Regions from separate parts of the Homo sapiens genome. Here region 1 is linked to region 2. Evidence: fine-mapped expression QTL. A gene starts in region 2. The other region holds a variant in brackets. All regions are shown on one strand. Distances are between the middles of the regions. Region 1 holds the start of SDR9C7 (short chain dehydrogenase/reductase family 9C member 7). Region 2 holds the start of RDH16 (retinol dehydrogenase 16).

The links. PIP is the estimated chance that this variant, and not a neighbour inherited with it, causes the effect.
Region 1: its variant is fine-mapped to the expression of RDH16 in whole blood (TOPMed, PIP 0.98).

Annotation. Positions count from the first base shown.
Region 1 is chr12:56,928,862-56,940,962 of GRCh38, forward strand. It overlaps SDR9C7 (short chain dehydrogenase/reductase family 9C member 7), which reads right to left and starts at 5,547. Exons shown (of 4, transcript NM_148897.3): 1 at 5,100-5,547; 2 at 1,365-1,623; 3 at 529-692. The coding sequence starts at 5,400. The variant C/A (reference allele first, on the strand shown) is at 6,533.
Region 2 is chr12:56,951,449-56,963,549 of GRCh38, forward strand. RDH16 (retinol dehydrogenase 16) reads right to left here and starts at 6,160. Exons shown (of 4, transcript NM_003708.5): 1 at 5,702-6,160; 2 at 3,458-3,716; 3 at 1,379-1,542; 4 at 1-798. The coding sequence starts at 6,014. The coding sequence ends at 581.

The DNA.
Region 1 (12,101 bases), 23 kb before region 2:
AAATCCCCATGTGCTCATTTTCTTCTTTATTAACAAGCACTCAGAATGTGCAAAGTACTTCACACATACTAACCCTCATAACAACCCCATGAGGGAGGCACTATCTTTAGCTCCATTTTGTAAATAAGAAAACTGAGGCATGGGAAAACTAGGTAATAGGTCCAAAGTCTCCTAGCTGGTAAGTAGTAGAGCCAGGATTTGAACCCAGGCAGTCCGGCTCCAGCAGCCATGCCCTTGATCTCTTTGCTGTATTTATCTCAGTGCATTTTCACCTGATTCCCCTGCATCATGATGCTGTGGGGGCAGGTGCCAGGAGTGGGCTGAATTGCCCTTAACTCCCCGGGCTGCTCCAGAAGTGATGATTCTGCCACTTGCTCTCTATTCTCAAACCCCAGCTGTGCCACTATGTGACCTTGGGTCCTGAACTCCTCTGCATTTTGTCTCACCATCTGTAAACGGAAAGCCAGCTAATGACCCCAAGACCCACTCGCCCCCCTCAGAGACCCCTCTCCTGCCCCAGGAACTTACAGATGCGGAAATAATCCTCTCCGTAGCTGTCCCGGGTCTCCTGAGGCAGCCTCTCCCAAAGCTTTCGCATGCGTGACTCCAGGTTCTCCTTGCCGAGAATGGCTGTCCGATAGTTCCCTGGCTCAATGATGCAGACTTTCACCCCAAAGTAGTAGAGCTCACGCCTGGGAAAGAAGAGTTGCAGTCAGTCTGGGCCCCAAGATGACAATCATCACGGAGAGTCACCTCTGGATGGGCTGGTCTTTCAGGAACCTAGAGATGCTTCTCTCACCCCTGTACTTGGCCCTGGCATTGCCTTTGTGCAAATAAGCCCTTCCTTAGGGACTCAGCCCTTTCCAAAACTGGCCCAACAGTCTCTGGGCAATTTGCATTAGGCACAACCAGCGGGAAGAAGTCAATAGAGAATCTAGGCCAAAGCCTTGCCTCCCACCAGGTCCCTCCCATTAGCAACCCCTCACTCAACACCCACACGGTGAATGGTGTGGATATACACAAGGCCTGCACGCTCCTCTAAGGACCTCCCAGAGGGGACCTGTGCCTCCAGGCCTGTCTGTCTGTTTGGGGGACTCTCCCTCCTCTCACAGGCCCAAACAGGGTTTCACTCACCCTGGTGCCGCTCAAGGGAAGGCCCACCTGATGCCTTGTATTTCCACCCTACCTCTTCTCCTCATCCCTGCTCTTGGTCCTTGGAGAAAGCACCTTGAGGTCTAACCTTCCTTCTGCTATTGTGTTAGCTTCCTGTCTGCGGAATTCCCCTGCCCACATGCTGTCACTCCCAACCCTCTCTAATCTCTGGGATTTTCACCCAGAATTGTTCAGTACCAGGGCCCAGTTACCTTATGCTGTCAGAGAAGGCCTCAACGCCAAACTTGGAGACGCAGTAGCCACCACCAATGACAGCCACACGACCACCAGAGCTGGACATGTTGACAACCCTGCCCCGGGCTCTCTTGACCATGGGCAGCATGTGAAGGGTCACTTCGATCAGTCCCACCAGGTTCACATTAATCACCTTCACAAAGTCATCCTTGGTCAGCCATTCGTTGGGACCACTGGGCAGGCCCACACCAGCATTGTTCACCAGGGCCCAGAGGCCTGGGGGTGAGATGAACCACACAGAAATCATCAGTGGGCCTGGGAAAGAACCAAGTTCTGCTCCCCACCGGCTCAGTGCCCTCAAGGATGGTTGAGCAGGTGCACAAGACATAACTCGGTCAGGCTATAACATAAAAGGAAGGTGTGTCTTTTACTAACTCGTTTTCCCTGAAGGGACACTTTTTCCTGATTCACATAAAGTCTGCCGGCTAGCTGGCGCTCTGTACTAGCTACAATCGAGGTGTTAGGTGACAGCATTTCAGCTATCAGCTTTGGGATAAGAGTTTCATTTTCATACCAATGAATTAATGTTTAGATCCCTTCCCCATCATACTTCTCCCTCTCTATTCACTTAAGTATAACCAACTGCATTTCACATACTACCAAAATCAATCCATTCATTCATTCATCTTCACACATTTATTCATGCATTTATCTAGTCTGTGACAATTACAGGGTGAAGGAGGCCAGGTGCAGTGACTCACACTTGTAATCACAACCCTTTGAGAGGCTGAGGTGGGAGGATCACTTGAGGCCAGGAGTTTGAGACCAGCCTGAGCAACAGAGTAAGACCCCTGTCTCTACAAAAAAAGAAAAAAAATTAGTCAGGCGTGGTGGTATGTGCCTGTAGTTCTAGCTACTTGGGAGGCTGAGGTGGGAGAATCACTTGAGCCCGGGTTACAGGTTACCTTGTTCGAGGTTACAGTGAGCTATAATGGTGCCATTGCACTCCAGCCTGGGTGACAGAGTGAGACTCTGTCTCTAAAAATAAAATGAAATAAAACGATATAAAATAAAATAAAGTAAAATACAGGGCAAAGGAGACATAAAATGAACAACACAGCATCTTATCCCTCAAGGAACTCACAAGCCTAGAAGGAAATAATAATATTTATAAATAAATATATAAAATATTTAAATAAAATAATTATGGAAAATGTGATGAGGACTATCCTTGAGATATTTCAATTAGGTTGGTACAAATGGAAAGAAATAATGCTAAGTGTTGTCATTCAACTCTGCAGGGGCCCAGGGTTGAAGAGCTTCAGGTCCAGTCCTGGTTTTACCTCCAGCCTTGAACAAGTCACTTCCCTCTCTGGGCCTCAGGCTCTTCATCAGATTAGACTAAAACAGTTGTTTCCAGGCTGTATTTTGCAAGCCTTCTAGGGGGAGGAAAATGCAGGAGAAGCTCTCCTTTCATTTGTTTTACATATTGGGGTTCTACTGTAAACCCCTCTAAACACTCCTCAAGGACCCCTTCCAGCTCCTTCATGCAAGGATTCCCCAAGTCCTACTGCCTGGTGATTCGCACCACAGCCCCAGCCTCAGCAGCCCCAAGATACTCTGCAGGCGCATCCCACTGTCTCCTGAGGGCAGGTCTCAACACAAACATAAATCCTAGTCCACCCCTCCCTCTAGGGCTGGGGTCCCCACCCAAGCCATGCCCCTACCCAGTCTCCCTGCCTTTCTCCATTCAGGAGCAATGAGAAAGCATGAAAGAACTTCCTCTCCCATCCCCCTACCCACCCCAGTTCCCAGTGTTTCTTAGACCAGGATATTGCCAAGTGGCTTAGGCAAAATAATGGTCCCCCAAAGATGTCCCCATCCTCATTATCTCTGGAACCTGTGAATCTGCTGGATTACATGGGAAAGGGGAATTAAGGTTGCAGGTGGAATGGAGGTTGCTAATTAATTGTCCTTAAAGTTAGGGAGGAAGCTAACACGGGAAATTATCCTGGATTAACCTGGTGAGCCCAATATAATCACAAGTCCTAAGTGGAAAGAGGCAGAAACCGGAGAATCAGAGAGCTTGAGAAAAGTGTGAAAAAGACTGGGCCCAACCTTGCGGGCCTTGAAGATGGAGGTAGCAGGCCAGGAGCCAGGGGATGCCAGCTGCCTCTGGAAGCTGGAAAAGTCGATGAGACGGATTCTCCTCTACAGCCTCTAGAAGGAACACAGCTCTGCTGACTTTGATTTTAGATCAGTGAGGCCTATTTTAGACATTACTCCTCCACAACTACAAGATAATATGTTTGTATTGTCTTCAGACCCCACAGTTGTGTTATTTGTTACAATAGCAACAGGAAACTCACATGCTAAGTGAGGTATTAAGGCAAGTGGCTCAAGGCTGAATGTAGGGAACTGGCTGAGACAGCCTGCTGAAGACAGAGGCTCACTCTTGCTGAATTATTAATTAATTAGCTCACTCAAATCTATTTATTCAGTACCTTACTAGGTGCCAGACATTATTCTAGGTACTAAGGATGTACAGTAAATAAAAGGGACAAAAATCCTTGTCCCCAGGAAGCTTTATTCTAGCAGAGGAAACAGACAATAAATAAGTAAAATCTATTGTACATTGACTAGTGATAAGTGCTAAGGAGAAGAATCAAGCAGGGAGTTACTGTCTAGATCCCCCTGGCTCCAGGGCTCTGTTGCCCTGACCTGCGCATGGGCTCCAGACTAGTTCCTTTAGGAGGGAGGACTTCCTCTAGTCTGCTGCTTCTGCAACTCAGCCATCCTGTTCCTCCTGTTCCTGGGCCCACACCCTGTGTGCTGGAAGTGCATGAGGCAGGTCCCCACACAGTCCTGGGCCAGCCCCAGTCCACAGCTTCCTTTCCCAATAGGAGCAGCCACTGTGACATACATACTTGCCCTGAAGTCAAATCAACACCCACCATGATGTCAAGAAGAGACCAGATCTCTTTCTCCCCTGCCTGACATAGTCAAGGAGACAAACTGCACCCACTCATGGGATCCAGCCTCCTGTCTCATTCCCCCTCCCCCATCCTGATCCCAACAAGAAATGTGTTTGTATTTCCCCAGGAGCTGATGGTTAGGACTGCTGAAACATCAGAGAGGCACATCCTTTTTTTTTCTTTTTTTTCTTTTTGAGAGGGATTCTTGCTCTGTCACGAGGCTGGAGTGCAGTGGCGCAATCTTGGCTCACTGCAACCTCCGCCTCCCGGGTTCAAGTGATTCTCCTGCCTCAGCCTCCTGAGTAGCTGGGACTACAGGCACGTGCCACCACACCCAGGTAATTTTTATACTTTTTAGTAGAGATGGGGTTTCACCATGTTGGCCGGGATGGTCTCGATCTCTTGACCTCATGATCCTCCCACTTCGGCCTTCCAAAGTGCTGGGCTCATAGGCGTGAGCCACCACGCCCAGCCAGGCACGTCCATTTTTAGAGGTTTGGACACACAGAACACATCTTCCCCCCTCGCTTCCTATTGAGACCTCTTTCCCGTTTCTCTGAGTTTCCAGGACAGAAAACTTCCTTGGGAAATCACCCCTTCATGTGAACAGGCCAAACCATGCAGTGGCTTCCAATCAGATTGAGGCAGGGGCCTTTCCCTACATCACCCCTCCCACCCAATCTGGACATCAGGGTCTCTGATACTGTCAGATGCTTCGGGAGAGAGGAAGAGGAAGAAGGAGAAACCAAGAAAGCCAAAGAATGTAATTCGCCCCACCTTGTTCGCCCACTTTGTCCCTCACCCACTGGGCCGCCGCCTTGATGCTTTCGCTCTTGGTGACATCCAGTAGGGTGGTCTGCAGCCGATAGGAGGTATCCCGCTGAAGTTTCTGGGATCCCTCCTCAGTGAAGCAAGCAGCCAGCACCTGCATGCCCCGATCAACCAGCTGTTTGGCCAGCAGGTTCCCGAAGCCAGAGTCACAGCCTGTGATGAAGACGTACTTCTCTGAGAGGTTGCCAACCAGATTGCAGTTCTTGAACCAGCGATACATAAATGAGAGGTCTGTGAGGGCCGCCATAGGGCAAGGGGAATGTGATGGCCAAGAGGGACTGGGCTCAGGAGACAGCAGGGAAGAAGCTGGTCCTCTGAGCCCTAGCAGGCAGTCTGCAGGAAACCACCTGGAAGAAGAACTCTCCTTCCTCCCACAGCTTGCAACAAATCTAGGTCCCTGGGTGAGCCACGCTGTAATTTTTATAGGTGGATGCATCACCACAGCAATTAGCCCAGATGCAAGAAATTCAAGTCCAACCTGAAGCCTTGTCACCTCTGACAGCCCTGGTAGCTGCCTCCCTCTCTCCCCCTGCCCTGATGGGTAAAGCTGCCAAGAATTGGAAATAATCCACTTGTAATGTTGGTGATGAGTGGTGGCTCACCCAGGCGGTGTAAGGCAGGCAAATGAAAGATGAGGACTCACCCCAGACAGCTCCCCTAGAAATCCTGTCCCCACCCTGCCCCCAACCCAGCCTGGGGATTTTGGTCTCCAGGGATCAAAATCATTTGTCGTGAGTGCAGGTATGTAAATAAGTTTATTTTCAGGGAAAATACTCAAGACAAATTTATTAATGTAAAACAAACAACATTGGTTCTGTACCTTCCAAACCCCAAGAGAAACAAGTCGCAGGTCATCAGCTCTCTGGAATTCTTAGGTAAGTCTCCATCATGAGAGAGGATGAAAAGCAATGGATTTCTCCTAGGGTGGATGTACCTCCATTGTCCTGAGGCTAGAGGCAGCAGGGCCCTCCTATAGGGGAGGCTGGCATGTGAAGCTTAGCCACCAGAAAGCAGAAAGACCTGGGGGACTCAGGCCTGACACCCTGTGGGGGTCATACTCAGGTCACCAGTAAGCAGCCCTGGGCAAGATGATGAGGAGGGATCATGAGTTCACTGGGCAGCTGAGGGAATTGTCTGGGCAGAGGCCTTGACTGTAAGAGGGGATGAGATATAGGAGGAGCAGAGAACTGGGGCCAGAGACATAGAAAATTCTCAGGGTCGGGACTTGGAGGAGAAACAGAGATTCTAGGCAATTTAGCAAATAATTTACAGAAAGCTAAGAGGTAAGGTGGTAAAGGAAAGGAAATAAGGAAACCAGAGGTGTGAGTAGTGAGGGGCCACACCCAGAATTGCATAAGATGCAGGGAATGATGCTGGAG[C/A]CTCTGTGGTTCTTTGGATCAACATCTAGGGTCACCATTCCTTGGGATGAGCCTGGTCCTAGCTCACACCTTCATGGCTTAGCGAGTCTGACACAGAAATGGGACCACAAAGTTCTCTAGTGTGAAGGGACAAAGGATGTATCTCTGTGATCCACCATTTGCCAAGTCTGACCAGCGTGGAATCACATAAAGCAGGTGTCACCCTGGGAAAGCCCCGCAGGGTTTGGCCGTTCCTTAACAAAGTAGGGGAGGGGGCCAGATTATGAACCCACCCCCAAAGAGCAGACCTAAAGCTTATAGGGGATGGAGGTGGGAAATGGTAGAAAGCAAACCACACCTACTTCATAACCAACCTGAGGCAGAGCACCTCCTATGCGGGATCTGGGAACAATCTCCCAGTCTCTGTCTGCCTCCTGGGTGAATGAACAGAGAAGTCTTGGCTGAAACAGGTCAGACCATGTCACTCAAGACTGAGCAGGTCCGGGGCATTGGGTATCCCAGTCCTTGAGGACACAGGTGAGGTCCAGGAGTTGGGTCTGACTTAGCATAAGGATAACTCAGAACTGCCCCAGCACAGGCCTGGGCCTGACTCAGCACCTCCTGGGCCTCTATGCTGGCAGTGTTCCCCTGGCCTCAAACTAAACACACAGTCCATGAGGGTGGGGGGTGTGAGGGAGGTAGGACCACATAGAAGGCTCTTCTTCCCAGGGCTAGAAATGCCTCCCTCTCTCAGATGACAGCATTCCTTGCCAAGCTGGCCCCTAAGGTCTGATAGGTCAGGTTGGTAGCTGCACTCCCCATCCCCACCCCATGCACACAGGTATCTCAGAGGAGAGGAGCCCTCTCCTCTGCCAGGCCATTTCCCTCCAGTGGGAGAGCATAGACTGCTGAGGTCCAAGACACACCCTGATGAGGTAGACAGGAGGAAGAGCAGGTGTGGGCTCACCCACCCCCAGTTGCTCAAGACCTTCCACAAGTGTGGATTCTTCAGGTTGACAGGTGGGCCATGAAGCTCAGAGCCCAAGGAAGTGGGATGCCATTATCTGTGATTGGGTCTCCCTTCCTAAGCAGCAAAATGTGGTTCTTTCCTCCTAATATCACCAGAGTCCTGAATAACGTCCCAGAAAAAAACTAGAACAGAGGTGAGGGAAGTGAGGTACATGACCCTGAACTTGAGAGCTCCCTCCCACCACTCTATTTCTCACCCCATGAAACAGCACCCCTCCCAAGTGCAATGATGTTAAAGTGAGGGCCGGTCACTGAGTGCTACAAAGAGGTCGCTACAAAGTGCTACAAAGAGGCCTGCCAGTGCCTTTGTGACATGTCATTGCTTCCTTGTCCCTCTGTGCACTCCTGTGACCCCAGGCTACTTGATTCACTCCTGGAAAGGAAACAATTGCCCCTCACCTTGGTGGCAGAAAGGGCTGAGACAGGGCAGGGATAATCCAACTTCTCTCTTCAATTTCCTCCTGAGTTCATCCCTCTTATCCCCAGATCCCCATGAAGGCACCTGCCTCCTCCTCCCTCTTGTTCACAGCCCATGCTCCCCTCAGACTAGAAGGCAACTTGCTGCACATGGCTGCACTTTTTAGCTTTTGCTCTAGAACTAAAGTAACCAGATGGTTTTTTGAGGGTCATGGTTTCAAGAGGGTCAAACATTGGTTCCTGTGTCCTCTGTCCGAATCCCTATTGAGAACACCACTGCCAGCCAATGGTTTTAAGAGGGTCAAACATTGGTTCCTGTGTCCTCTGTCAGAATCCCTATCGAGAACACCACTGCCAGCCAATGCCCCCAGAGCTGGCACCTGAGGTCTAGGGGTCAGGCTGATGGCTGCCCTGTCGCCCCACACCTTATCCACAGGTATATTCAGAGGAGCCCCCATCCACTTCCTCCAGGCCATTTCCATCATGGAGAGAGTGTAATAGACTGGCCAGGTTGATGCACACCTGGGGAAGAAGCAGGAGGCAGAGAAGGTGTGGGCTGTGGATCCTTCCCCTCCTCACACGCTCCCATTGTGTAGACTCCTCAGAATTGGCCAAGAGACTCAAAGGCAACAGGACACCTATGAGCGTTACTGGGTCCCAATCTTTAGAAGAACACCTTGGTTCTTTCCTCCTATGTTGCCAGTCCTGAGTGATATCTCAGTGGAATTCTGTGGAGGGCATGAGGAAGAAGCTGGGATAGGCATCCAAATGGCAAGAGTGCTCCCTCCCACCACACCATTACTCTCCCCAAGACACATCACCTCACCCAGATCACCCAGCTCCACCCAACCATGCACCCCAGTCTTGGATTCACAGGGGCTTAGCCAGCCTTGGAGAGCCCCAGTTGAGCGTGACGTCCATAGGAAGGTAGGCATGTCGCTCATGGGGAGGTAGAGAAGATTGGTGTCTCAGCCAGCTGAGTAGTGAGCGCTCCATGCAGTGGGTCAACAAGGATAGATTCGTACTGCATTTTGCCCAAAGCCTTCTAGATGCTTTTCTGATGCATGTTAAGGATGAGGAAAGATCCTTAAAGTACTAGCACATCCCTTCCCTCCCATTTAGAGCTCTGAATTAGGAGGACAGTGTCTAAGAATTCCAGGCCCCCCAAATGATATGCCTCAAGTCTAATCCATCCATATTCCCCAGAGAGTGCCCCAACCTTCACCCAAGGAACATCCGTTTCACTCTAAGCCCCCTCTGCCTCTCTTTTTGAGATATCTGGACTCATAAATGGAAGGTCTCTACTAACAGCCTAAGAATATGAAAATCAGCTATCTCTAAACCCAGCTGCCCATGAGCCCACTGGTAGCCACTGTCTCTGACTTTAGTTTCCTCTTCAAAATAATGAGGGATTCAGATGAGGCAGTGGTCCCAATTATAGAAAGCTTGGATGCTTCCTTTAGGTGAACAGTTGACCACATGGCACCCTGGGAATGGGGATAAATGTCCTCACTTTTTTGGGGAGGCAGAGTTTGGAGGACAGATTCTCATACTGTTGGAGGCACTAATGATGGACCCAGACTTCTAGACAAGGATTTCTTTATCTCCCCACTGTCCACAGCTCACTCACGGGATATCAGAAACTTCTCCCCATACGTCTCCTTGACCTCGGGGCTGGCCTAGTCCGACAGCTCCTTGAGGTTCTGTAAATGCCTCTCAGAGCCGGCCATACTGGTCCTGAAGTGACCAGGTTCAATCACAGACACCTTCACTCCAAAGTGGGAGAGCTCCCTCCTGCATGGCAGACATGCAGAAGGGCAAGGACTTAAGAAATTTTGGGAGGCAAAATACAAAAAACAAAGAAACCCAATACAAACCCAGCATGCAACGACAGTGGGAGATGCAAGAAAGCTTGGAGAGTTGGGAAGGGCAGCAGATAGCAGATAAAAGTTATGATGGTGGCCTTGCCTCTCTCTGGGGTTTCCATATTTTACATACCAAAGCTTACTAGCCCTAAGTCCTACCAATTCAAGAGCAAGGCAGCATCTCAGTGCTATCACCTCCTATGCCCCTCACATCCAATGGATCACCAGAATTCCCACATTCTACCTCCTCTGCAGTCCTCAGTCCCCTCCCTTCTTCTCCTGCCCCAGGAATCTCCCTGGCCTCTGAGCTGGGTGATGGCAGCTGTCCTCTAAGGAGCGTCCCTCTGCCTTCAGTCTGGCTCCCCACACTCACAGCCACTGGGCTCCCTGCAGTAAGTGGGTGTCTAGAAGCCGATTAGACCAAAGAGCTCCCCTGAGCAAATCCCTTCTTTGGGGGTTCCACTGCCAACAGCATGAGGCACAGCTCCTGTCCAGGGCCTCCACGAGCCCATATGAACCCACCTGCCCAGCCTCCTCCACAGGCCTGGCCCTGTGCTTCACCTCATGAGGACCCCACAGCACAGGCAGGCAGCTGAGGCTCCCCCTAGGTCTGGGCTGAAGACAAAAGTCATTCCCCCATTTCTGTTCAAGGCTGCCAGGTGGGGATCCTCAATCTCCAGCTCAGATCCCACTGCCAGGACCCTCCCCAGCTTAGGAGGCTGCCATGGCCACCAGGGCTGACTGGGTCACAACCCCTATGAGAACTGGCAACAATGGTTCTGGCTCTCTTGCTCCTCTCTCAGGTGTCAGAGCTTTTAGGTCAGGGCCAAAACCCTGTTGTTGTCCTAGGCTGAGTTTATTGGGTACTCTTCCAAGGGCCACAAGAGTATATTGTATGGACTCAGATGCTCTCCCCATGCCTCCAGGACCCAACAAATATCTCTCCAAGGGAGAGAGACAGAGACAGGAAAACAGGAAGACAGGAATGGGGTAAGACAGAGAAACCAAGGGGAAAGGACAGAAGAGAAAGGAAAATGGAAGGAAAGAATAAGAAAAACACATAAATAATTGCTTTCTGCATCCTGGTTAAGAGAGATACACTTAAATCCTAAGACTGGGGGAAGTTAGAGAGCAGGCCTGCACTGGGCATCAGGGGACAAGCTGTGCTACAACCTGCATCAATGTCAAGGCAATATCTGTCCTGGAAGAAAAGGTCACCTTGTGTACCTGGGAGTCCCAAAGCTCACTGTGGACTGAATGGCCAGAGCAGGAGGGGAGGAAGGAAAGAGGTCTCATGCCACACAGGTGTCCAGACTGCACTCTCTGCCCCAGGAAGTACCACCTTTTCCTCCCACCATCTCATAAGGCCACCTCTGCCCTATCCCCATAGGGTCCAGCAAGCTTTGGGGAAGACTCTACAGAAGACATAGGGGAGCAAACTAATAGCATGAAAGATCTGGAGCAGTCAGAGCTACAGAACTACGGACTCCAGGCCAGCAGGGGCAGGGGTGTGAGTGGGTGAGGGCTGGGGGGTACAGGAGACGGAGACTGACCCTAGGAATATTGGAAAAACAATAAGGCCTGCAATGGTGGCCCTTCCCCTACTCAGAAACCTTTCCTGGACTTGAAGGAATGAGGATTCTTTGATTCAATAGTTGTACTTTTCTTGAATAGCACTGCTAAGCCTGTCAACAAACCTTGGTAGAGAATCGCTACTGAGATGTTATTTATGCCAGGAAAAGTGGGTAACAAACTTCGGCATTCAACAATATAGAATCCCTTTAACAAATTATGGCCTCTCCACATGCTGGAATATGGAGACCTTGATTGTTATGTTGGGGAAGAAACTTGATGATGAAAATGCTGACCCCAGAATGTGTAAAGTAGAGGGAAATTAACCCTGGAGGCTGGGATTAGGGGGAATGTTGTTTCACTCTCATCCTCTTCTATGATTTCTCCAATGAGAAATCCTATCTTATCCTCCTATCTATCCAATCTTATCCTCTTCTATAATTTCTTCATGTTTTCCATTTACAATCAGAACAAAGCAATCAATGATCTCCCTTTCCCCAAAAGGAACAGGATTCATCACTCGGTGTTTGATGTGAAGTCCCTTCAGCTCTCCAAGCCCCAGTGTCCTCGTGAATCAAGCGGAGATCATCTTAAAGCCCTCAACAGGGACAAGTGTGAAGGAACCAGTAAGAGAATGCTGAGATCAGAAGCCTGGATCCTGCCCAGCCCCATCCCCGATGGTCTCATGCCAACCGTCAGGACCCAAC
Region 2 (12,101 bases):
ACTGATTTATTTGTCCTCTGCACAGATCCTTACTTAGGACACCACCTCCCAGCCACTGCTTCTGGGATGACTCCTGAGGCCTATGGGGCCGCATAATGGTTCCAGTCCCAACACCACGTGTACAGGGATCTTCAGAGGAGGGGTGCCCTCACATCCTCCAGGCCATTTCCACCCCGTGGGAGGGTGTAGACTGGCCCAGAATTAACACACAGCCTGATAAGGAAGCAGGAGGTAATGGCATGGGCTGAGGCTCCTTCCACCTGCTCACACCCACCCCAGTTGTTAGCCCAAGGATGGCCCTAGAGGCTTGGACCCTTGAGTGGCCACCCACGGTGACAATGCACCCAGGAGCACTATTTGGTCCCTGTTTCTCAGCTGCGTAACTTGAAACTTTCCTACCAACATCTCCAGAGAGCAGAATTATCTCCCAGGAGAATCATGGCCAGGAGGTAATGAAGGAGGTGGGATTGGTGCCCTACTGACCGGACGGCTCCCTCCCTCCACTTTATATCTCTCCCAAGGATACACCACCCCTCATAGCACACCCCAAATCCATGCAACCATGCATCCAACCTTAGCTTCATAGAGCCTTGGCCGGGCTTGGAGAGACCCAGTACATAATGGCATCCACCAGGAAGGTGGGCATGTAGCTCATGGGGAGGTAGAGAAGCTTGGCATCCCAGCCAGCTGAGTAGCGAGTACGGGGGTGGCAGGCAATCAGCGCATGCTCCATGCAGTTGGTCACCAACGACAGATCCTGTGTGCACTTCTGCTCCATTTGTTCAGCTGATTTCTTATCTGTTAAGAATCAGAAACAATCCATGTATATTTCCACCTCTAACCGCTCCTGCTTTGGATTCAACTTAGAGTGGAAAGGGTCTAAGAACTCATGCCACCCCACAACCCCCAGTCAAGCAATGCCTCAAATCTCTTTTATCCAAATTCCCTGAGCTGGAGCCCATCCATGTGAAAGTAGCAAGTGTCTCACACTAAGTCATGTCTGTCTCTCTTTGGGAATATCTGGACTGCATAAATGATGGTCTCCACCCACAGTAGAAGTCTCAGCACATAAAAACAAGCTGTCTCTAATGCCAGCTTGTGATCAGCCACCAATGTCTTCCCTTTCTGGCTTCCCTTTGTTCCTCAGTAACGATGGGTTCAGATAGACACTGGTCCCAAGTTCTGAGAAGCCTGGACACTTGCTTTTCATGACCAGTTGACCACACAGCACCCATCATGGAAATGGGGCTAAAGGTCTCCACTCTGTGGGGAAGGGAGAGCCTGGGGATCAAACTCTAATGCCCTTCAGACACCAATGGTAGACCAAGGATTCCACACGAGGGTTTGCTTCTCTCCCCACTGTCCACAGCTTACTCACAGTCTGCAACAAACTTCTCGCCATAGGCCTCCTTGACCTCTGGACTGGACCGGTCCCAAATCTCCAGGAAGCTCTTTAAGAATCTCTCCTTACTGGTCACAGCAGTCTTGAAATAGCCAGGTTCAATCATAGCCACCTTCACCCCAAAGTAGGAGAGTTCCCTCCTGCAAGACAGAGAAGCAGAGGGGAAAAACTTCGGGGGTCTTGGAAGGTAAAACACAAACAATAAAAGTAAAACTATGATATCACAACATATGAGGACAATGGGTAAAATAGAAAGCTTGGAATATTTAATTTCCAGCAATCAAGGGGTCATAATTATCATGGTGGCATTCCCTCTGTATGGAGTTTCCATATTTTACACACCTGAGCTTACTAGCCCTAAATCCTACCAATTCCAAAGCAAGGCAGCACCTTAGTGCTGTCTCCTCCTATGTCCCTCACATCCAGTGGATCACCAGAATTCCCACATTTTGCCTCCTCTCCAGTCCTCAGTCCCCTCCCTCGTTTTCCTGCCCCAGGAATCTCCCTGGCCTCTGAGCTGGGTGATGGCAGCTGTCCTCTAAGAAGCATCTGTCTTCAGTCTGGCTCCCCACACTTACAACCACTGGGCTTCCTGCAGTCAGTGGGAGTCTAGAAGCTGACTGGACCAAGGAGCTCCCCTGAGCAAATCCCTTTTCTGGAGGGGGTTCCACTGCCAACAGCATAAGCCACAACTCCTGTCCAGGGCCCACAGGCCCTCAAGGAGCCCACCTATGACCACCTGCCCAGCATCCCCCACCAGGCTTGGCCTTGACCTTCACCACAAGAGGATTCTGCAGTACATGCAGGTGGCTAATGCTCACTCTGGGCCTGGGCTGATGGCATTCCTTCATCTAGGAGCCTTTCCCAGTCTTCCTTACCAGGCTGCCAGGTGGAGTTCTCAATCCCCAGCTTGAGTTTTCAATCCCCAGCTCAGATGGAATCTCCAGGACTCTCCTCAACTCAGGTGGGTACCATGGCCAGCAAGGTTGACTTGGTCACCAACCTTATAAGCATTGGCACTTGATTCTATATCTCTTGTCCCTCTCCCAGGTATCAAGTTTTAAGTCACAGACAAAACCTTGTTGTTAAGGATGGATTTTTGGCCACTTGGACAAGGGCCTAAAGTGTCTGTTGTGTGGACTCAGATGCTCTACCCATCGTCAAAGGGGCTCTGGATATGAATTCTGCTGGGAAAGACCATCTCCTGCATGCTGTCTTTGGGCCCCAGAGAGCCATGAAGGAATGGCCTCAGGGCTTGAAGCATTTCTCTCCCTAGAGAGGAAGAGCCCCAGAGCCAGGCACCCATCTCCTGGTGTGGAAATATCTTTCCCTGTTTCTGACTCAGTGAGTGCTCTTGCGTCTGCATGAGCTTGTGTGTGTCCGCGGCCCTAAGGCATGCCCCAGGTTTACAAGTATTTCAGATTCCTGGGAGGAGGGGTTGGGGTCCTTCTACTACAGCAAGAGAGGGGTGTTAGCAAGCCACATGCCCAGTGTCAGCTGCTGGGAGAGCCTCCCTGGCTAGGGGACCAACACACACTGCTGTAGCTGATCTTTCTCTGCTCCTTCTCTAGGGTGCAAAGCATTCTTCCATCCAGCACTGACTGCCTGGTCTGCCTTTGTGGCTCCAATACCAAGGTGCAATGGGAAGAAGTGTTTAGGGTCCTTCCCTGGGATTAGTCATTGATACACAGTGTTCCCCTGTCCTGGGCTTGGTAACCTCAGTACTGTGTTCCTCTTGGTAGGATCTGAAGCCAAAGATCCAGGTCCAATTCTGCCTCTGGCAGTTTCTGACCAAGAGATCCATCCAGGGAAGAGGTATCGTTCAAGAAACTCTCTGACCTGGGGCCCCTCCTGTCGCCCAGCACTCAGGAAGGTGCTTCCCAGTGAATGGCCAGCCCAATCCAGAAAGAGGAAGATGAGGGTGTCACACATGAAGACAGAGAGTGATCTCATGAAAGGAACTTACAGGCTGGGATTCAAGGAACTCCCTGGAAAAGACTTCCCCACAAGGACAGGAGCAGGAAGACTAGGGTGGGCCCCATCCCAGACCCATACCTGAGGGAGTCAGAGAAGGCTTCCACGCCATACTTGGAGATGCAGTAGCCTCCACCAAAAAGTGACACCCGGCCCATGACACTGGAGACGTTGACCACACGGCCCCTGGCCCTCCTCACTAAGGGCAGCAGGCTCAGAGTCACATCAATCACCCCCAACAAGTTCACGTCCAGTATGGTCACGAAGTCCTGCTTGGTGAGCAACTCATTGGGAGCCGTGGGCAAGGAGATGCCAGCATTATTCACCAGGCCCCAGAGTCCTGGGACAGTGGGAAGATGAGAGAGCATCACTGTGTTGTGCCTGTGCAGGTGGACAGAGTTAGGGTGCAAATCACATCCCAATAAAGTGAGGGCAGACTGACAGGTGTGGGATGGGGAGGAGGGTATAACAAACACCACAGTATCACAGGGGTGGGGGCTGAGCATTCAGCAGCTGGTGGGCCACAAAACCCAGGTCTTTCTCCATTTACTCTTCATGGACCAGCCTACTGCCTGAAAGACAATAAGCTATTACCCCTATTTAAGGACTGCATGAAATCATGTTAAAGAACTATTGTCCATGCATTAGTCTGGAAACATGAAGACCAATGTTTGGTTAGTTAAACATGAATGTTGCAGACATTACAGACATACAGCTGCATTTTCAGGTGTGCTAACACCTTATATAGTGATTGTCCAGCAACTATCTGTTGATGGAATAAGAGACAAGAAAGAGGGAGAGTGAGGGAGACAGGAAAGAGAGAAAGAGACAGACCTGAAATCCTAGGCTTGGGGGAACTTGGGAAACATCCTGTTTCCCAAGTGTTTGAACTCAGGGCACTGGTCTTGAAACATCCTGCATCAGTAACATTTTTATAGAAAGCACAGGGGAATTCCAATGCACAGGCTTTGGGAAGAAAGCAAGGTTGCGTCACCCCACTCAGTACACAGACTCCACCCTCTGCCCCAGAAAATGTCACCCTCTCCTCCTACTGCATCAGAAGCCCACTCTTCATCCTTCCCTTTAGTCCCAAGTTCACCCAGCTCTGGGAAAATCTCTCTGGAAGATGCAAATACACAATCCCCAGGACTTCAAGTCAATAGAGTTTTCAACCCACAGAGCTAGGGGGCAGGAGCACAGGGTCCCTTGAGTCCAGGCAGGGGGTGGCAGTTGTTGATCTGGAAGGGTTGGCCCAGGCATATGAACCTGTCCCCTGCTCAATAACAGGCCCTGCCCTGATGCAAATGCAGATTCCTCCACCCAGACATCTCATTTTTAAGAATCCAATCAATACTCACACTTACAGAGACGTTGGCAAATAAAAGTCCACCAAGATGACATTTATGATGAATAAAAAGCAGGAAGGAATTTCATATCCAACCACTCAGTATGGATTACATAGGTAAGGCTATTGGAAGGATACAGTATTCTAAATAATTAAATATAATTTTATAAAAACAGTCATTATGGTGGAAAAGTGTTCATCTTCTCCAGAGAATTTAAGGTGACTGAAACTAAGAACAAAATATAAAATCCTAATTTTGTATAATTGTAAAAAGGACTTATGTGTGGATGACAATTTCAGGGAAACTTGTTTTCATCTTTATTCTTTTCAGTGTTTTCCACAAAGATCATATTCTGATTTATTGTTACATAAAATAAATCCATGTTTCTTTCTTCCTCTATAATAAGACAGATGAATTAGTGTAGTGAAAAGAAGAAAGAAAGAAAAAGTAACCCCTTACTAGTTCTGCCTTCCTTAAGCAGTCCTTAAGCTGATACTCTCCTCTGAAGATGGAGATGATCGTAGCTCTCAGTGGACGCTGATGGGCCCTAGCAAAAACAAGGTAAAGTGCTGGGAACATAAGCCTGGCTCCAGCACAGGCACAGCCTCCGTGCACACTTGCAGCCCTGTGCTCCCTTCTCAACGATGCTCCAGCAAGTCTCCAGATCTCTAACCCAGGCTCTTAGCATCAAACAACACATGACTTCTGCTTAGACAGGAGGGAGAGGATAGAGAGGAATTCTGGAGAGAAAATCTCATCAGGGCAAACTCTCCCCAAGACTAGACACCTCCAATGTCGGGAGAGGTTAAGGATTGAAAAGAGATGGGGTTCAGGCAGCCTGTTAAGTGAGAAATATTAGAAAGCTACTGTTACTTCAACCTGGAAAGACACTGTAGGAATCTTCCCAGGGAGCAGACAGGAGGTGGTCCCTTCACACAGAGGGAAGACACAGACAGACTTGACAAACCTGGGTGGTTACCTTTGTCTCTCACGCACTCCTTCACCCACTGGGCGGCTGCAGCAACGCTCTCTGTCTTGGTAACATCCAGGGTCACCGTCTCCAGCCTGTCTGAAGTCTGGCCCCTCAGCTGCTCGGCTCCTTTCTCCGTCAGACATGCAGCCAGCACCCGCAAGCCTCGTGCATCCAGCTGTCTGGCCAGCAGTTTCCCGAAGCCAGAGTCACAGCCCGTGATGAACACATACTTATCTCTCAGGTGGCTCAGCACCTGCCTCTCCCGGTACCAGTGCAGAAGGTAGTACAGGCCCACGAAAACCGCCAGGTAGAGCCACATGGCTTTGCAGAGGACAGACACAGACAGGCTGTGGGGGAAACCAGAGTCTGGCCTCTGTTCAGACAGGAGGATTTAAGAACACAGAGGGCTGTGGTAGGCAGGGAAGCCCTCAGGCATTTTGGCAGGGAATCCTCACTTTCCTCCCTGATGACTGCCTTTCTGCAACATATTTATTCTGGCCCCACCTCTCTGCTCTTTGAACTGCTTTTGCAGTACTCATGCACACCTTTGCACACCTCAAGTCCTGCCCAGTAGGAAGATACTATCTTCCTACTGGGCAATGTGCCCCTAGTCTCCTGATTTCTCTCTGCCTTGCTATGCCCACTACATGCATGCTGTGTCCATGAAGGAGCACACACATATATTCACACAGGAACATACACAGAACTCACACAGGCTTACACACAGCTGCCCACACACACTCTCCATGGCAAACACACCCCTCTGCTCTAAGTACAGGGGTCAAAACTGTCTCTACAAAGCTCCGATACCAACACTCCTGGTCCATGACCTTCTGAACATAGAAAGGCCTTATTGGGTAGCTACCCATGGTTTCCAGGCACATTAGGTGGAAATCCCTCTCTGAGCCTGAGTTTCCTCATCCTGCTCCGCACCCCAGAATCAATCACTCCTCTGAAAACTAGGGCACGGTCAGGCTGTCTAGGATGAGAAGGAGAAGGCAAAGAGTGAGCAGGAACAGGTTCCCTCCTGCTATAATAGTTTTTTGGGGCAGAAGGATTGCAGGATCCCACAGGGAGAATCCAACCTCAGAGGTAAAGAAAGCAGGGAGAGGATGGGCAAATAGGAACAGCTCCGGTCTGCAGCTCCCAGTGTGACTGATGCAGAAAATGGGTGATTTCTGCATTTCCAGCTGAGGTACCTGGTTCATCTCACTGGGACTGGTTGGACAGTGCGTGCAGCCCACAGAGGGTGAGCCGAAGCAAGGCAGGGCATTGCCTTACCCAGGAAGTGTAAGAGGTCAGGGGATTTCCCTTTCCTAGACAAGGGAAGCCGTGACAGACTGTACCTGGAAAAACAAGACACTCCTGCTCAAATACTGCACTTTTCCAATGGTCTTAGCAAATGGCACACCAGGAGATTATATCCTGTGCCTGGTTTGGTGGGTCCCATTCCCACAGAGCTTTGCTCACTGCTAGTGCAGTAGTCTGAGATCAACCTGCAAGGCAGCAGCCTGGCAGGAGGAGGGTTGCTCACCATTGCTGAGGCTTGAGTAGGAAAGCAAAGCAGCTGGGCAGCTCAAACTGGGCGAAGCCCACTGCAGCAAGGCAAGGCTTTCTGCCTCTATAGACTCCACCTCTGGGAGCAGTGCATAACTGAACAAAAGGCAGCAGAAACCTCTGCAGACTTAAACATCCCTGTCTGACAGCACTGAAGAGAGCAGTGGTTCTCCCAGCATGGTGTTTGAGCTCTTAGAACAGACAGACTGCCTTCTCAAATGGGTCCCTGAACCCTGTGTAGACTAACTGGGAGACACCTCCCAGTAGGGGCCGACTGACATCTCATACAGGTGGGTGCCCCTCTGGGACGAAGTTTCCAGAGGAAGGATCAGGCAACAATATTTGCTGTTCTGCAATATTTGCTGTTCTGCAGCCTCTGCTGGTGATACCCAGGCAAACAGGGACTGGAGTGGACCTCCAGCAAACTCCAACAGACCTGCAGCTGAGGAAACTGTTTGAAGGAAAACTAACAAACAGAAAGAAATAGCTCAAAATCAACAAAAAGGACATCCACACCAAAACCCCATCTGTAGGTCGCCAACATCAAACACCAAAGGTAGATAAAACCACAAAGATGGGGAGATACCAGAGCAGAAAATCTGAAAATTCAAAAAACCAGAGTGCCTCTTCTCCTCCAAAGGATCACAGCTCCTTGCCAGCAACAGAAAAAAGCTGGATGAAGAATGACTTTGATGAGTTGACAGAAGTAGGCTTCAGAAGGTCAGAGTAACAAAATTCTCTGAGCTAAAGGAGGATGTTGGAACCCATCACAAGGAAGCTAACAGTCTTGAAAAAAAGATTAGATGAATGGCTAACTAGAATAAACAGTGTAGATAAGTCCTTAAATGACCTGATGGAGCCGAAAACCATGGCATGAGAACTACAGGATGCATGCATAAGCTTCAATAGCCAATTTGCTCAAGTGGAAGAAAGAATATCAGTGATTGGAGATCAAATTAATGAAATAAAGTGAGAAGAGAAGTTTGGAGAAAAAAGAGAAAAAGAAGTGAACAAAGCCTCCAAGAAATATGGAACTATGTGAAAAAACCAAACCTACGTTTGACTGCTGTACCTGAAAGTGACGGGCAGAATGAAACCAAGTTGGAAAATACTCTTCAGGTTATTATCCAGGAGAACTTCCCCAATCTAGCAAGGCAGGCCAACATTCAAATTTGGGAAATACAGAGAACACCACAAAGATACTCTTCAAGAAGAGGAACCCTAAGACATATAATTGTCATATTCACGAAGGTTGAAATGAAGGAAAAAATGTTAAGGGCAGCCAGAGAGAAAGGTCAGGTTACCTACAAAGGGAAGCCCATCAAACTAACAGTGGATCTCTCAGCAGAAACTCTACAAGCCAGAAGAGAGTGGGGGCCAATGTTCAACATTCTTAGAGAAAAGAATTTTCAACTCAGAATTTCATATCCAGCCAAACTAAGCTTCATAAGTGAAGGAGAAATAAAATTCTTTACAGACAAACTAATGCTGAGAGATTTTGTCACCGCCAGGCCTGCCTTACAAGAGCTCCTGAAGGAAGCACTAAACATGGAAAGAAACAACCAGTACCAGCCACTGCAAAAACATGCCAAATTGTAAAGACCATTGATGCTAGGAAGAAACTGCATCAACTAACGAGCAAAATAACCAGCTAACATCATAATGACAGGATCAAATTCACACATAACAATATTAACCTTAAATGTAAAAGGGCTAAATGCCCCAATTAAAAGACACAGACTGGCAAATTAGATAAAGAATCAAGACCCATCAGTGTGCTGTATTCAGGAAACCCATCTCACATGCAGAGACACACATAGGCTCAAAATAAAGGGATGGAGGAAGATCCACCAAGCAAATAGAAAGCAAAAAAAGAAAAAAAAAGCAGGGATTGCAATCCTACTCTCTGATAACACAGATTTTAAACCACCAAAGATCAAAAGAGACAAAGAAGGCCATTACATAACAGTAAAGGGATCAATTCAACAAGAAGAGCTAACTATCCTAAATATATATGTACCCAATACAGGAGCACCCAGATTCATAAAGCAAGTCCTTAGAAACCTACAAAGAGACTTAGACTCCCCAATAATAATGGGAGATTTTAACACTCCACTGTCAATATTAGACAGATCAATGAGACAGAAGGTTAAAAAGGATATCCAGGACTTGAACTCAGCTCTGCACCAAGCGGACCTAATAGACATCTACAGAACTCTCCACCCCAAATCAACAGAATATACATTCTTCTCAGCACCACATCACACTTATTCCAAAATTGACCACATAGTTGGAAGTAAAGCACTCCTCACCAAATGTAAAAGAACAGAAATCACAACAAACTGTCTCTCAGACCACACTGCAATCAAATTAGAACTCAGGACTAAGAAACTCACTCAAAACCACACAACGACATGGAAACTAAACAACCTGCTTCTGAATCACTACTGGGTACATAACGAAATGAAGGCAGAAATAAAGATGTTCTTTGAAACCAATGAGAACAAAGACACAATGTACCAGAATCTCTGGGACACATTTACAGCAGTGTGTAGAAGGAAATTTATAGCACTAAATGCCCACAAGAGAAAGCAGGAAAGACAAGAAATCGACACCCTAACATCACAATGAAAAGAACTAGAGAAGCGAGAACAAACAAATTCAAAAGCTAACAGAAGGCAAGAAATAACTAAGAGCAGAACTGAAGGAGATAGAGACACAGAAAACCCTTCAAAAAATCAATGAATCCAGGAGCTGGTTTTTTGAAAAGGTCAAAAAAAATGGATAGACCACTAGCAAGACTAATAAAGAAGAAAAGAGAGAAGAATCAAATAGACACAATAAAAAATGATAAAGGGGATTTCACCACTGATCCCACAGAAATACAAACTACCATCAGAGAATACTATAAATACCTCTATACAAATAAACCAGAAAATCTAGAAGAAATGGATAAATTCCTGGACACATACACCCTCCCAAGACTAAACCAGAAAGAAGTGGAATCTCTGAATAGACCAATAACAGGCTCTGAAATTGAGGCAATAATTAATAGCCTATCAACCAAAAAAAGTCCTGGACCAGATGGATTCACAGCCCAATTCTACTAGAGGTACAAAGAGGAGCTGGTACCATCCCTTCTGAAATTATTCCAATGAATAGAAAAAGAAGTAATCCTCCCTAACTCATTTTATGAGGCCAGCATCATCCTGATACCAAAGCCTGGCAGAGACACAACAACAAAAAAGAGAATTTTAGACCAATATCCCTGATGAATATCGATGCAAAAATCCTCAATAAAATACTGGCAAACCAAATCCAGCAGCACATCAAAAAGCTTATCCACCATGATCAAGCTGGCTTCATCCCTGGGATGCAAGGCTGGTTCAACATACACAAATCAATACACATAATCCATCACATAAACAGAACCAATGACAAAAACCACATGATTATCTCAATAGATGCAGAAAAGGCCTTTGACAAAATTCAACAGCACTTCATGCTAAAAACTCCCAACAAACTAGGTATTGATGAAACATATCTCAAAATAATAAGAGCGATTTATGACAAATCCACAGCCAATATCATACTGAATGGGCAAAAACTGGAAGCCTTCCCTTTGAAAACTGGTACAAGACAGGATGCCCTCTCTCACCTCTCCTATTCAACATAGTGTTGGAAGTTCTGGCCAGGGCAATCAGGCAAGAGGAAGAAATAAAGGGCATCCAATTAGGAAAAGAGGAAGTCAAATTGTCCCTGTTTGCAGATGACATGATTGTATATTTAGAAAACCCCATCGTCAGCCCAAAACGTCCTTAAACTGATAAGCAACTTCAGGAAAGTCTCAGGATACAAAATCAATGTGCAAAAATCTCAAGCATTCCTATACGCCAATAGCAGGCAAACAGAGAGCCCAATCATGAGTAAACTCCCATTTACAATTACTTCAAAGAGAATAAAATACCTAGGAATCCAACTTACAAGGGATGTGAAGGACTTCTTCAAGAAGAACAACAAACCACTGCTCAATGAAATAAAAGAGGACACAAACAAAGGAAGAACATTCCATGGTCATGGATATGAAAAATCAATATCATGAAAATGGCCAGCTCTCCCTCTCCCTCTCCCTCTCCGTCTCCCTCTCCCCACGGTCTCCCTCTCCCTCTCTTTCCACTGTCTCCCTCTGATGCCGAGCGGAAGCTGGACTGTACTGCTGCCATCTCGGCTCACTGCAACCTCCCTGCCTGATTCTCCTGCCTCAGCCTGCCCAGTGCCTGCGATTGCAGGCGCGCGCCGCCACGCCTGACTGGTTTTTGTATTTTTTTGGTGGAGACGGGGTTTCACTGTGTTGGCCGGGCTGGTCTCCAGCTCCTAACCGCGAGTGATCCGCCAGCCTCGGCCTCCCAAGGTGCCGGGATTGCAGACGGAGTCTAGTTCACTCAGTGCTCAATGGTGCCCAGGCTGGAGTGCAGTGGCGTGATCTCGGCTCGCTACAACCTCCACCTCCCAGCCGCCTGCCTTGGCCTCCCAAAGTGCTGAGATTGCAGCCTCTGCCCGGCCACCACCCCATCTGGGAAGTGAGGAGCGTCTCTGCCTGGCCGCCCATAGTCTGGGACGTGAGGAGCCCCTCTGCCTGGCTGCCCAGTCTGGAAAGTGAGGAGCGTCTCTGCCCAGCCGCCATCCCATCTAGGAAGTGAGGAGCCCCTCTTCCCGGCCGCCATCCCATCTAGGAAGTGAGGAGCGTCTCTGCCCGGCCGCCCATCGTCTGAGATGTGGGGAGCGCCTCTGCCCTGCCGCCCCGTCTGGGATGTGAGGAGCGCCTCTACCCGGCCGCAACCCCGTCTGG